Homo sapiens: one gene and its partners. The protein of the gene in region 1 purifies or fractionates together with the protein of each later gene. This does not show direct contact. Each region holds a gene or a part of one and is shown in the gene's direction. Other genes may lie near its edges. The genes, in order: EXOC2, EXOC7 and EXOC3.

Evidence for each region.
Region 2: the proteins of EXOC2 (region 1) and EXOC7 fractionate together in Homo sapiens (co-fractionation; 4 studies listed by BioGRID, with this or other methods). This does not show direct contact.
Region 3: the proteins of EXOC2 (region 1) and EXOC3 purify together in Homo sapiens (affinity purification with mass spectrometry; 7 studies listed by BioGRID and IntAct, with this or other methods). This does not show direct contact.

Annotation. Positions count from the first base shown.
Region 1 is NC_000006.12:691,440-695,186, reverse strand, and holds the start of EXOC2 (exocyst complex component 2), read left to right. Parts: upstream 1-2,047; 5' UTR 2,048-2,168; exon of another isoform or gene 2,169-2,913; intron 2,914-3,747. UniProt on the Homo sapiens protein: Component of the exocyst complex involved in the docking of exocytic vesicles with fusion sites on the plasma membrane.
Region 2 is NC_000017.11:76,102,165-76,105,911, reverse strand, and holds the start of EXOC7 (exocyst complex component 7), read left to right. Parts: upstream 1-2,124; 5' UTR 2,125-2,219; coding exon 2,220-2,279; intron 2,280-2,340; exon of another isoform or gene 2,341-2,485; coding exon 2,486-2,551; intron 2,552-3,747. UniProt on the Homo sapiens protein: Component of the exocyst complex involved in the docking of exocytic vesicles with fusion sites on the plasma membrane.
Region 3 is NC_000005.10:460,176-463,922, forward strand, and holds part of EXOC3 (exocyst complex component 3), read left to right. Parts: intron 1-1,784; coding exon 1,785-1,895; intron 1,896-1,981; coding exon 1,982-2,132; intron 2,133-3,747. UniProt on the Homo sapiens protein: Component of the exocyst complex involved in the docking of exocytic vesicles with fusion sites on the plasma membrane.

The DNA of each region.
Region 1 (3,747 bases):
TTGGTGCATTCACAAACCCTGAGCTAGACACAGGGTGCGGACTGGTGTGTTTACAAACCTTGAGCTAGATACAGTGTGCCGATTGGTGTATTTATAATCCCTGGGCTAGACATAAAGGTTCTCCAAGTCCCCACCAGACTCAGGAACCCAGCTGGCTTCACCCAGTGGATCCCGACCGGGGCCGCAGGTGGAGCCGCCTGCCAGTCCCGAGCCATGCGCCCACACTCCTCAGCCCTTGGGTGGTCGATGGGACTGGGGGCCGTGAAGCAGGGGGCAGCGCTCGTCGGGGAGGCTCGGGCGCACGGAAGCCCATGGCGGGGGGGGTTGGCTCAGGCACTGCAGGCTGCAGGTCCCCAGCCCTGCCCCGCGGGAAGGCAGCTAAGGCCCGGGGAGAAATTGAGCACAGCAGCTGCTGGCCCAGGTGCTAAGCCCCTCACTGCCCAGGGCCGGCGGGTTGGCTGGCCGCTCCGAGTGCCGGCCCGCTGAGCCCACGCCCACCCAGAACTCGCGCTGGCCCGCAAGTGCCGCACGCAGCCCGGGTTCCCACCAGCGCCTCTCCCTCCACACCTCCCCACAAGCTGAGGGAGCCGGCTCCGGCCTTGGCCAGCCTAGAAAGGGGCTCCCACAGTGCAGCGGTGGGCTGAAGGGCTCCTCAAGCACAGCCAGAGTGGGTGCCAAGGCCGAGGAGGTGCCCAGAGCGAGCGAGGGCTGTGAGGGCTGCCAGCACGCTGTCACCTCTCAAAACAATGTTTTAGTAGAAGTATATCCCATGCAACATTAGTTTAGTGATAAATATATCTATACTACAAATTACTTGTTGTTTATCTGAAATTAAACTTTACTGGGTATTTGTATTTTTATTGCTAAATCTGCCAACCTAGGTTGTTGAAACTTACTTTTTTCCACTTCACTTAATATTCTTTTCACAGTCCACTCTGACGAGATGTAGCTTCCCCACACTCCTTTGAAACTGCTTTTGTCAAGGATGCCAATGACTGGCATATGCCAAACTCAATTGTCTCTGGAGTCTTGGCCTCACAGTACTTCTGAACATTGGCTATCAATTCCTCCTTCCTGAAACTATTTAGCTTCCAGAATCCGCTACCCCCACTTTCCTGATTGTCCTTCCTCCCTGGCCATAGCCCCTGAACCCGAGCTTCCCCCAACCTAGAGCATCCCCTGACCCTAAGTATCCCCCCAACCCTGAGAACCCCCTGACCCCGAGTATCCCCCGACCTCGAGAACTCCCCGACCCCGAGCATCCCCCCAACCCCCAGCATCCCACGACCCCGGGCATCTCCCCCGATCCTGCGCATCCCCTGACCTGGTATGGCGCCCTGACCCAGTGCAGCCCTCAAACCCCTGCAGCCCCCTGACCCCATGCATCCTCCTGACCTAGGGCTGCCCCTGACTCAATGTTGCCCCCGGACCCCAGTGCCTCCTCCTGACCTGAGGCACGCCCCCCAACCTGGTACAGTCCCCTGATTCCAGTGCATCCTTCTGACCCAGTGCTGCCTCCTAACCTGGTGCATCCTCCTTACCCAGTGTGGCCCCCTGGGGATGCACACTCCAGTGCATCCTCCTGACCTGATGCTTCCTCTGGTCTCGGTGCAGCCCCCCTGACCTGGTGCAGCCCTCTGATTCCATGCATTCTCTTGACCTTGTGCATCCCCCTGTTCCGGAGGGGTCCTCTGACCCGATGCAGGGCCCATCGTTGTGAACTGTGGCCCACAAACGCACTATCATCCCACAGTCTCCCTGAGATGACCCGAGGGCACGGGGATGGATGGTGCACCCGGCCTGCCCCTTGAGCTTGTATCCTTCTTTCCCTCCCTCACCGCTTCCCGCCACCGCAAAGACGCCCAGCAAAAACCTCCTACTCGTGTCCATTCAGGCAGCTGGGTCCCTCGGAACCCAAGGCATTCCAGCGTCCACCGCCCACGGCCCCTGCTGACCTCCAGCACCCGCGCCGGTCTCCTCCCCTCCTCTACCCTCCCCTGAAGGCTCCGCCCATCGAGGACTCGGCGCTCGACTGCCAGGCGGATCTACACGCTCGGCGCTCGCGGCGGGCGGAAGTGAGGTGCCGGCGGCTGGCGGCCGCGGAGTCTTCGGCGAGACCTACCGGGCCCTGTCTGTGCCGGCCGTGAGCTGCGGCAGGACGGCTGGAGGTATGTGTGGGAGGCTGGAGGGCCTGGCCGAAGGCCAGCGGGACATGGACGTCAGCTGCACGGAGGTGGCCGCCTGCGGCGTCCGTCCAGGCCTCAGCGGTGAAGGGACAGCCGCGCCCACTGGCGCCGTCGGTCACCTGCGGGGCCCCGCGACCCCCCGCGGTTCCCAGCCCCGCAGCCCCCATCCCCGCCGTCAGCCGCCTGCTGGGCTCCGCGCCCACCCCCGCCAGTTCGCACCCCCGCGGTCCCCACCTGCGCCGGTGAGGGGCGTGGGCTGCAGAGGGCTGACTCCAGGCCCCGCCCGCTGGAGCTGGCCCCAGACTGCGCCGCTTCGCCCTTGCGCAGTTGCCACTCCGTGAGATTTGAGAATTTCTCCGGAAAAGTGAACGCGAGGCGGGTGTTACCTGTCTGCCTAGGCGTGCATCCCGCTCTGGCTGTCCTGAGCGCTTAAAAGGCGCCTGCCGCTGTTGTCAGCGTTTGCGTGCACGTACTTGATCCTCGCGCGGGTGTATGTACGCTGCCGTGTGACCCATTTTACGGATAGGGGAGCGGCGGCTCAGAGTGCTTGAGCAAAGAGCCTGAGGTCCTGTTGTAGCTGCCATTGAGACCTTGCGCGCCGGCTCCAGGTCCGCACACCAGCAGCCTGGAAGCCTGGTGATGCGTAACCCTGTATCCCAAGATTGTTAAGAAAACACTTTAGTAATTCCGAGAAATAGTTCTTGAAAGAACTCGTCTTTGAATGGAAGTAAGTTATTTTTAATCTGCCAAAGGTCAACATACTAATAAGTCTGAGAAATTTTAAGTCTGATGCCTTTATGAATCTGTGAGTAAACTTACAAGGAACACTTAAAAAATATTTTTTCTAAGTTAGCCACACTTTAATTAAATCTTTTTGTGTGCACTATGCAATATTGAAAAGTTACTTCTGAGCTTATGTGGATCTGTCTTCTAATGCATAATAATGTTTTGTTTATGAATGTTAGTATGTACTGGCCCATGCTTTGTGTAACTGACTCCTTTAATGACAAATCAACTGAAAGCCAGAATCTTCTCAAAGATGATTTTTTTGTGCTAAAAGTTGGCGATTCCCAGAGTAGTAATAGAAAGAGGGTGATGTGTGCTTAGTACTTACATGTTCACTTGTTTGTCTAAGTAGAAACTTAATAAATTAAAGCAGAGAAGCAGAGTTCCCCCAGTGTGACTTGGACCAACTCTTGGAAGTTTTAGAAAGTGATCTTTTTTTCTTGTCAAGTATTTAATTTCCTGTATTGAATGCCATTTTGAACTACAGTTGACCCTTGAACAACACTGGGGTTAGGGGTGCCCACGCAGTCAAAAATTTCCATGTAACTTTTGACTTTCCCAGGACTTTACTAATAGCCTACTGTTGACCAGAAGCCTTACTGATACATAAACAGTTGACTTACATGTATTTTGTATGTTATACGTATTATATACTGTATTCTTAAAGTAAGCTGAGAGAGGAAAATGTTAAAATCACAACAAATGTATTTACTCTTCTTTAAATGAAAGTGGAGAATCATGAAGGTTATTATCCCCATAGTCTGCATGAGTAGAT
Region 2 (3,747 bases), on another chromosome or scaffold:
TTGCTTGAGATGGAGTCTTGCTCTGTTGCCCAGGCTGGAGTGCAATGGCACCATCTCGGCTCACCGCAACCTTTGCCTCCTGGGTTCAAGCAATTCTGCCTCAGCCTCCCGAGTAGCTGGGACTACAGGTGCACACCACCACACCCAGCTAATTTTTGTATTTTTAGTAGAGATGGGGTTTCACTATGTTGGCCAGGCTGGTCTCGAACTCCTGACCTCGTGATCCACCCGCCTCGGCCTCCCAAAGTGCTGGGATTACAGGCATGAGCCACCACACCTGGCCGGAGCAAAATATTTATTATCAGTATTTTTATTAAGCATCTACTATGGGCCAGGAACTGTTTAGAGACTCAGGCCAAGCACGGTGGCTCACACCTGTAATCCCAGCACTTTGGGAGGCCGAGGCGGGCGGATCAACTGAGGTTGGGAGTTCAAGACTAGCCTGACCAACATGGAGAAACCCCATCTCTACTAAAAATACAAAATTAGCCAGGGTGGTGGCCCATGCCTGTAATCCCAGCTACTCGAGAGGCTGAGGCAGGAGAATCGCTTGAACCCGGGAGGCAGAAGTTGCAGTGAGGCGAGATCACGCCATTGCACTCGAGCCTGGGCAACACAGCAAGACTCCGTCTCAAGAAAAAAAAAAGAGAGAGAGAGAGAGACTCAGGTTAAATGCTGGACCAGGCCCTCAAAGGTAGTCCACCTGAGCCCAAAACACCCTCTCTACAGCGGCTAACTAGCCCCGCTACTCTATTCTGTGACATCTAACAGTTTAAACTTTCTCCTACTTAGCCCTTTGGACTACACAAGGACCATGTCAGCGAAATCATCCTGGGTATTTCCTGACACAGGAATCAGCCTTTTATCTCCCCCACCTACAACAGGATTGAAATTGTCCTCTTGCCTGAGGGAAGGCTGCCCATCCCTCTCCAGGCTCTGTGCACCCACTTCCTCCTCCTCCTCCTCTTCGGGTGACTATGGGTGGAGTGAGCGCTTGGGAACCCTAGAGCTTGGGTTCTTCCTTCTCTCCTTCTCTCCTTAGGCCGGGAGCAGGGGCTCACGCCTGTAATCTCAGGACTTTGGAAGGCCAAGGCGGGTGGATCACTTGAGGTCAGGAGTTCGAGACTAGCCTGGGCAACATGGCGAAACCCTGTCTCTACTAATAATACAAAAAAATTAGCCGGGCGTGTTGGCAGCCGCCTGTAATCCCAGCTACTCGGGACGCTGAGGCACGAGAATCACTTGAACCCGGGAGGCAGAGACTGCAATGAGCCAAGATCGTGCCACTTGCACTCCAGCCTGGGCGACAGAGTGAGACTCTCTCTCAAAAGAAAAGAAAGGAAAAAAAAAGCTTGGTGTCCCCCCTGCCCGCCCCAAACCTTCTCATCTACCAGCACATGCCTCCTTGTCTATCTTCCGGGTGTCTGGACACTGAGGCCACAGAAGGACTGAACCAAGCTGGTCGGCCTTGTCCTTTCTCAAGGCTGGGGGCCAGAGGCAGGGTGGGCAGGGACGGGTTAGAGGAAGGAGTAACTCGAGGTTTTGCAGGAGCTGGGTCTGCAACCACAACATCCAGCCCCGCAGGGAAGTTGATCCAGGGGCGCCCCCCACCCCGTCCCCTGGAGCTGCAGTTGGACGCTGGGTCTGGGCCTGGAGCTCCGGAGCAGCCCCGCCAGCCCACAGGATACGTTTTTGCGTAATGCAGGGTGGAAGGCGGAAACAAGTACACAAGCCCCTGGTTCATTACATGGACACACGTTAGGCATCTACTGTGTCACCTGCTCCGTGCGGGGCTTTGTGGGAAACGCAATTGGCCTTGGTGCCTGCCCATAGAATGCGACCTGGGGAAAGGAATTCGTCGCCTTCCCCAGCAGTCTTTATCAAAAGGGTCGGTCTTTCAACGAAAACAGCAAGTGAGCTCTAAGTGTCCTGCCAGCCGCGGGACATAAGGCCGATCGAAAACCTCTGCTGAGGCAAGGAACCCGCGTCGAGGTCCCTTGCAGCATCCGAATACACTTCTCTTCCCAGCCACGCTCAAAATGGCCGTCGGTCCGTTCTTGGGCTCCGCGCAGGCGCACTTCAGCCTGCGATTCCCAACATGGCTCCGCCCAGGCGTCCCGGGGCGGGACCAAGAGCGGAAGTGGGTGTGACGGGGACGGGGGCCCGGTGGGCCCGCGGAGGAAAGATACTGGGGAGTGGGAGCCGCGGGGTTCAGAGCGATGATTCCCCCACAGGAGGCATCCGCTCGACGGCGGGAGATTGAGGACAAGCTGAAGCAGGTGGGCGTGGGCCTGGGGAGGCTGGGGAGGAGGTGAGGGAAAGGGGCCAACAGCGGGGCCTGATTGTCTACTCATGGAGGAGGCAGGGGTGGGAGGGAGCGCACCCAGCGAGGAGATGGGGTTGGGGGCTAGGCCGTGGGGTTGGGACGCAGTGGTCTCCTTTAGCTTCTGGTTTCTGGTGATGTCCTCCCCTTGCCTGCCCCCAGGAGGAGGAGACTCTGTCCTTCATCCGAGACAGCCTGGAGAAGAGCGACCAGCTCACTAAGAACATGGTGAGTCTCCCCGCAGCTGGGGGAGAGGGCAGGCCTCCGGACCCTGGGGGAGAGCCTTGCGACCTGGCGGTTCCGGTTCCTGCGGCCTGGAGTTCTGGAATGGGCAGCGACGGAGGCAGTGTGTGGGTTTATCTAGCAACAGTTTGGCATCTCTCCTGCCTAGCCCCCTCCCCATGTTCCGTACCCTCACTGAGGAGGCTGCACTTCCCACTGGCCTGGACTTGCTGCTTTCTGTCTAAGCTCGCCATTCTTCCTTCTCTCCTTCTGCAAACACTCAGTGAGTCTGACCAGTTGGGCTAGGTACTGGGCATATGTCATTGTCAGTGGACTCTCTGCCCAGGAGGTTGGCACTTTGAGATTCCTGAGGGCAGAGAAGACTCAGCCTTCACTCCAGAGGACTTTAGGGAAAGAAAGAGCTCTAAAGTCAGGCAGATCTGGGATCTAGTCCTTGCCCTTCTGCTTAAATGTGCGGCTCCTGATAGGTAACTGGTGTCAGCGAATTCATCTGCTAAAACAGAGACTGTGCCAGCCTCCCAGTGTGTCTGTGAAGGTCATATGCGCTAATGCATGCGACTGCATCTTGCACAGTGCCTGGTATACAATAGGTGCTCAATAAGTGAGTTTCCTTCTTTATTCCTAGGGGAGACTGGAAAAGCACAAAGTGAGTAAATACAAACTTGTATTTGCATTTAGTCACACAATAATAAAGTCCTAGTCCTTTTCTAAAAATTTTAATTTTTAAATTTTTTTTTTTAGAGGCAGAGTCTGGCTGTGTTGTGCAGGCTAGAGTGCAGTGGCATGACTGTAGCTCACTGCAGTCTCTAACTCCTGGGCTCAGGCAGTCCTCCTGCCTCGGCCTCCTAGCAGCTGGGACTGTAGGCACACACCACCACGCCTTGCTAATTGTGTGTGTGTGTGTGTGTGTGTGTGTGTGTGTGTGTGTCTGTGTGTGTAGACAGGGTCTCACTGTGTTGTCCAGGCTTGTCTTGAACTCCTAGTCTCAAGCTAACCTCCCGCCTCAGCCTCCCAAATTCTGGGTATTACAGGCATGAACCATCACGCCCAGCCTCTAGTCCTTATTCAATGAGTTTCATCCTTAGAGAGGGTTTTGAAGATACAGCAATGCATTTGAGGCTACTCTGTATGAAACTACTTCCAGTCCGGTTTAGGAATGCTTCAGAGAGAACAGAAGTTGA
Region 3 (3,747 bases), on another chromosome or scaffold:
CAAGTGTGTCTTTTGATAGTTGTGAATCAGATTGGACTGCATCGCATGAGGGCTTAGGGTTCCTAGGCCTCTGGTAAGCCGAATAGCCCCTTCCCTCCTTCAGCTGCTGGCTTGTAGATCTCTGTAGAGAGATGTCCCTCAGCCTCCTCCTCAGTCTACTGTCAGCTCCCGAGCCAGATGCTGGCTCTGCAGGCTTGGATCCCACTTATTGGTGAGTGTGCCTTCCACGATGTGGCACATCAGGAGACATGGCGTCCATAGGTCCTGTCCTGGTGGCTTAGGTACTACAGCCACGCCGCCCACTCAGAGTTCCCATTTGCCATCCATCGATAGGGGTAATGCCCAAGTCCCCACTGGCCGCCCATCCACAGGGGTCACAGCTGAGTCCCCACTGGCCCTCTTCCATAGAGGTCTTAGCCGAGTCCCCACTGGCCAAGTCTTAGCCAAGTTCCCATTGGCCCTCTATCCATAGAGGTCTTAGCCAAGTCCCCACTGGCCAAGTCTTAGCCAAGTCCCCATTGGCCTTCTATCCACAGAGGCATGGCCAAATCCCTATTGGCCATCTGTCCATGGGGATCTTGGCCTGAGTTTGTTTCTTTGGAGGTCATTGTCATTTATGAGGTTAGATTCTTCTATAAAGAGACCGTTCCTTGATCACCCTCAGCTTTTTGATGACCTGAACCACACTTTGGACAGAAATGCTAACTTCTTTCCCTTTAATTGCCAGCTTTCAGTGTGCTCCTTTCTTAACATCTCTTAAAAATAGAAACGGTATTTGTTGTATGATTCTTCCACTCCCATAGGTGCTTGAGCATCCCCACAGTAAGTTTAAAAATAGAGCGTGTCACTACCTCTGTTTGTTTTCTTGACATTTCAAGTGTCTGTTTTTAATTGGATGATTTCAGGGACAGTTTCTGAAAGGGACATTTTACCTGACATTTGATGAGGTTCCTAACACTATGAGTTTCTAGGTGAAGTGTATAGTAAATAAAATAAATAAAATAAGATAATGCTTTCCCAATTCCTCACAATCAACTATGTAGTATATTTTTACAATCAGAATGCTGAACCATATTTTTTTTCCTTTTTTCAGTTATTATTTTTTACCAACTCCTCAAAATTTTTATATTTTTTAATTGTTTTTAAGAAACAAGGTCGGTCAGGCACGGTGGCTTACGCCTGTAATCCCAGCACTTTGGGAGGCTGAGGCGGGTGGATCATGAGGTCAGGAGTTCGAGACCAGCCTGGCCAATGTGGTGAAACCCTGTCTCTACTAAAAATACAAAAATTAGCTGGGCATGGTGGGGCACACCTGTAGTCCCACCTGCTCAGGAGGCTGAGGCAGGAGAATCACTTGAACCCAGGAGGTGGAGGTTGCAGTGAGCCAAGGTCTCACCACTGCACTCCAGCCTGGGTGACAGAGCAAGACTCTATCTCAAAAAAAAAAAAAGAGACAAGGTCTGATTAGGTTACCCCGACGGGTAGCTCACTGCAGCGCAGCCAGCAGCCTTTAACTCCTGGGCTCAGGTGGTCTCCCTGCCTCAGCCTCCTAATGAGCCATATTTTAAAGCCTGAGGTGAAGTTATTTTTTGATCCATTTAAAGTAATCAACCTCTCTGTCCTTCCATTAGTCTGGATCGTCTAAAGATTGTTTTATTTTTAGAGGCTCATCCGGTCAGATGTTAGTGATGTGAAATTTCAGGCCAGGCGTGACGTCAGCGTGGCATTTGAAACAGCTCCATGTTGCCCTTAGTGCTGTCTGACCGAAGCCTGTCTGTCCTCAGATATAAAGATGAAGCGCAGCTGTATAAAGAAGAGCACCTGAGGAATCGGCAGCACCCTCACTGCTACGTTCAGTACATGATCGCCATCATCAACAACTGCCAGACCTTCAAGTGAGTGTGGCCGGGCGCTGTGGCGGGGGAGCGGTGGAGGCCGGCCTGCCCAGCCGCTGTGTTGAACCTGAACCCTTTCCTTGCAGGGAATCCATAGTCAGTTTAAAAAGAAAGTATTTAAAGAATGAAGTGGAAGAGGGTGTGTCTCCGAGCCAGCCCAGCATGGACGGGATTTTAGACGCCATCGCGAAGGAGGGCTGCAGCGGTTTGCTGGAGGAGGTCTTCCTGGACCTGGAGGTGGGCCTGGCTCTTTCCTCCTGCCGTTTTCTGGGCCGAAGCCCAGTGCTTCCTCACTGCCCTCTGGGACACAGGCTGTGAACTGTACCGTGCGGATGCCGTCTGGGGAGCCGGGCTGTGCACTTGCATTCCGGTCAGATCGCTTAAAGCGCCTCCGTTTTCGGTGACGCTGCTTCGTATGATGCAGGGTCCTTCTTACGCACAATTCAGTAGATTCACCCTGTAAGTATTAAAGACATCAGACAATTTAGTGGATTACAAAATAGAAACCGATATGTAGGGACCTGTCAAAAAGTCAAATTGAGAGTGCACACACACACACATCCTCACATAGATCAGTTTCGCTTTTGAATATAGGTACACACGCAAAAATCATTAATAAAATGAATTTAATATTGTATCAAAGGCATAACCTACCATGAAATGTAGGGGTTATTTCAGAAACATAAAGATGGCTTAACATTATTTAGAGGTATTGGCAGAAATCAGGATATATTTAAAAAATAAGACCTTGTAGGCCGGGTGTGGTGGCTTACGCCTTTAATCCCAGCACTTTGGGAGGCCAAGGTAGGCGGATCACCTGAGGTTGGGAGTTCGAGACCAGCCTGACCAACATGGAGAAACCCCATCTCTACTCAAAATACAAAATTACCTGGGTGTGGTGGCGCATACCTGTAATCCCAGCTGCTTGGGAGGCTGAGGCAGGAGAATTGCTTGAACCCGGGAGGTGGAGGTTGCAGTGAGCAGAGATCGCGCCATTGCACTCCAGCCTGGGCAACAAGAGCAAACTCCATTTCAAAACAACAACAACAACAAAATAATAAGACCATGGCCATCTGGTGGTCCTGCTGGAAAGGGGTTCCTGGGATGAGGGGTGGGATTGGTTGCTGATTCATCAGTGTCTGGTTGTGCAAGAGAACAGAAATGTGTGTGGAAGTGTCCCCAAAGAGGCAGACACTTGTAACTTTCGCAAATATGACTTAGCAAGAAGAAAATATTTACATTTGAAATTATTTCAAAATTTAAAAAGAATATATAGAAAAATGGGCAAAAGACATGAACGGCCACCTCACATTAAAAGCAACACCAGTGTCCTCATCGTGAAACTAGACGCCCGATCTTATCCTCGAAGCAATGAATGCTCAACAGGACCTGCTGCTCAGCAGGATGGCAGGAGCCGGAGACGTGGATGCTGTTCAGGCTTGTTGAGGGTGTGGGAAAAAGGGGCTGTTTGTATTCTGTGTGGGCCTGAACTGGGTTGGGTTTTTGAGGGCAGCTTGGAAATACAGCCATTGTAGTTTTAATCTGTAACTTTTACTGGAGTTTTAATTTGTACACTTCTATTGGAGTTTTAATTTGTATACTTTTATTGGAGTTTTAATTTGTATACTTTTATTGGTTTTAATGTGTATACTTTTTGACTGAAAAATTCAACTTTAAGGAATTTCATCAGAATTATACAGATTCACTGTTGCATTATTGCAAAATGTGAAAAAAATTTAAATGTCCATCAATAGAGAATTGGGCAAATAAATACGATAAATATATGTAGCCACTAAAGGTAAAATGTATACATGCACAGATATTTCCATCTTTAACATGTCATTTTGGGAAG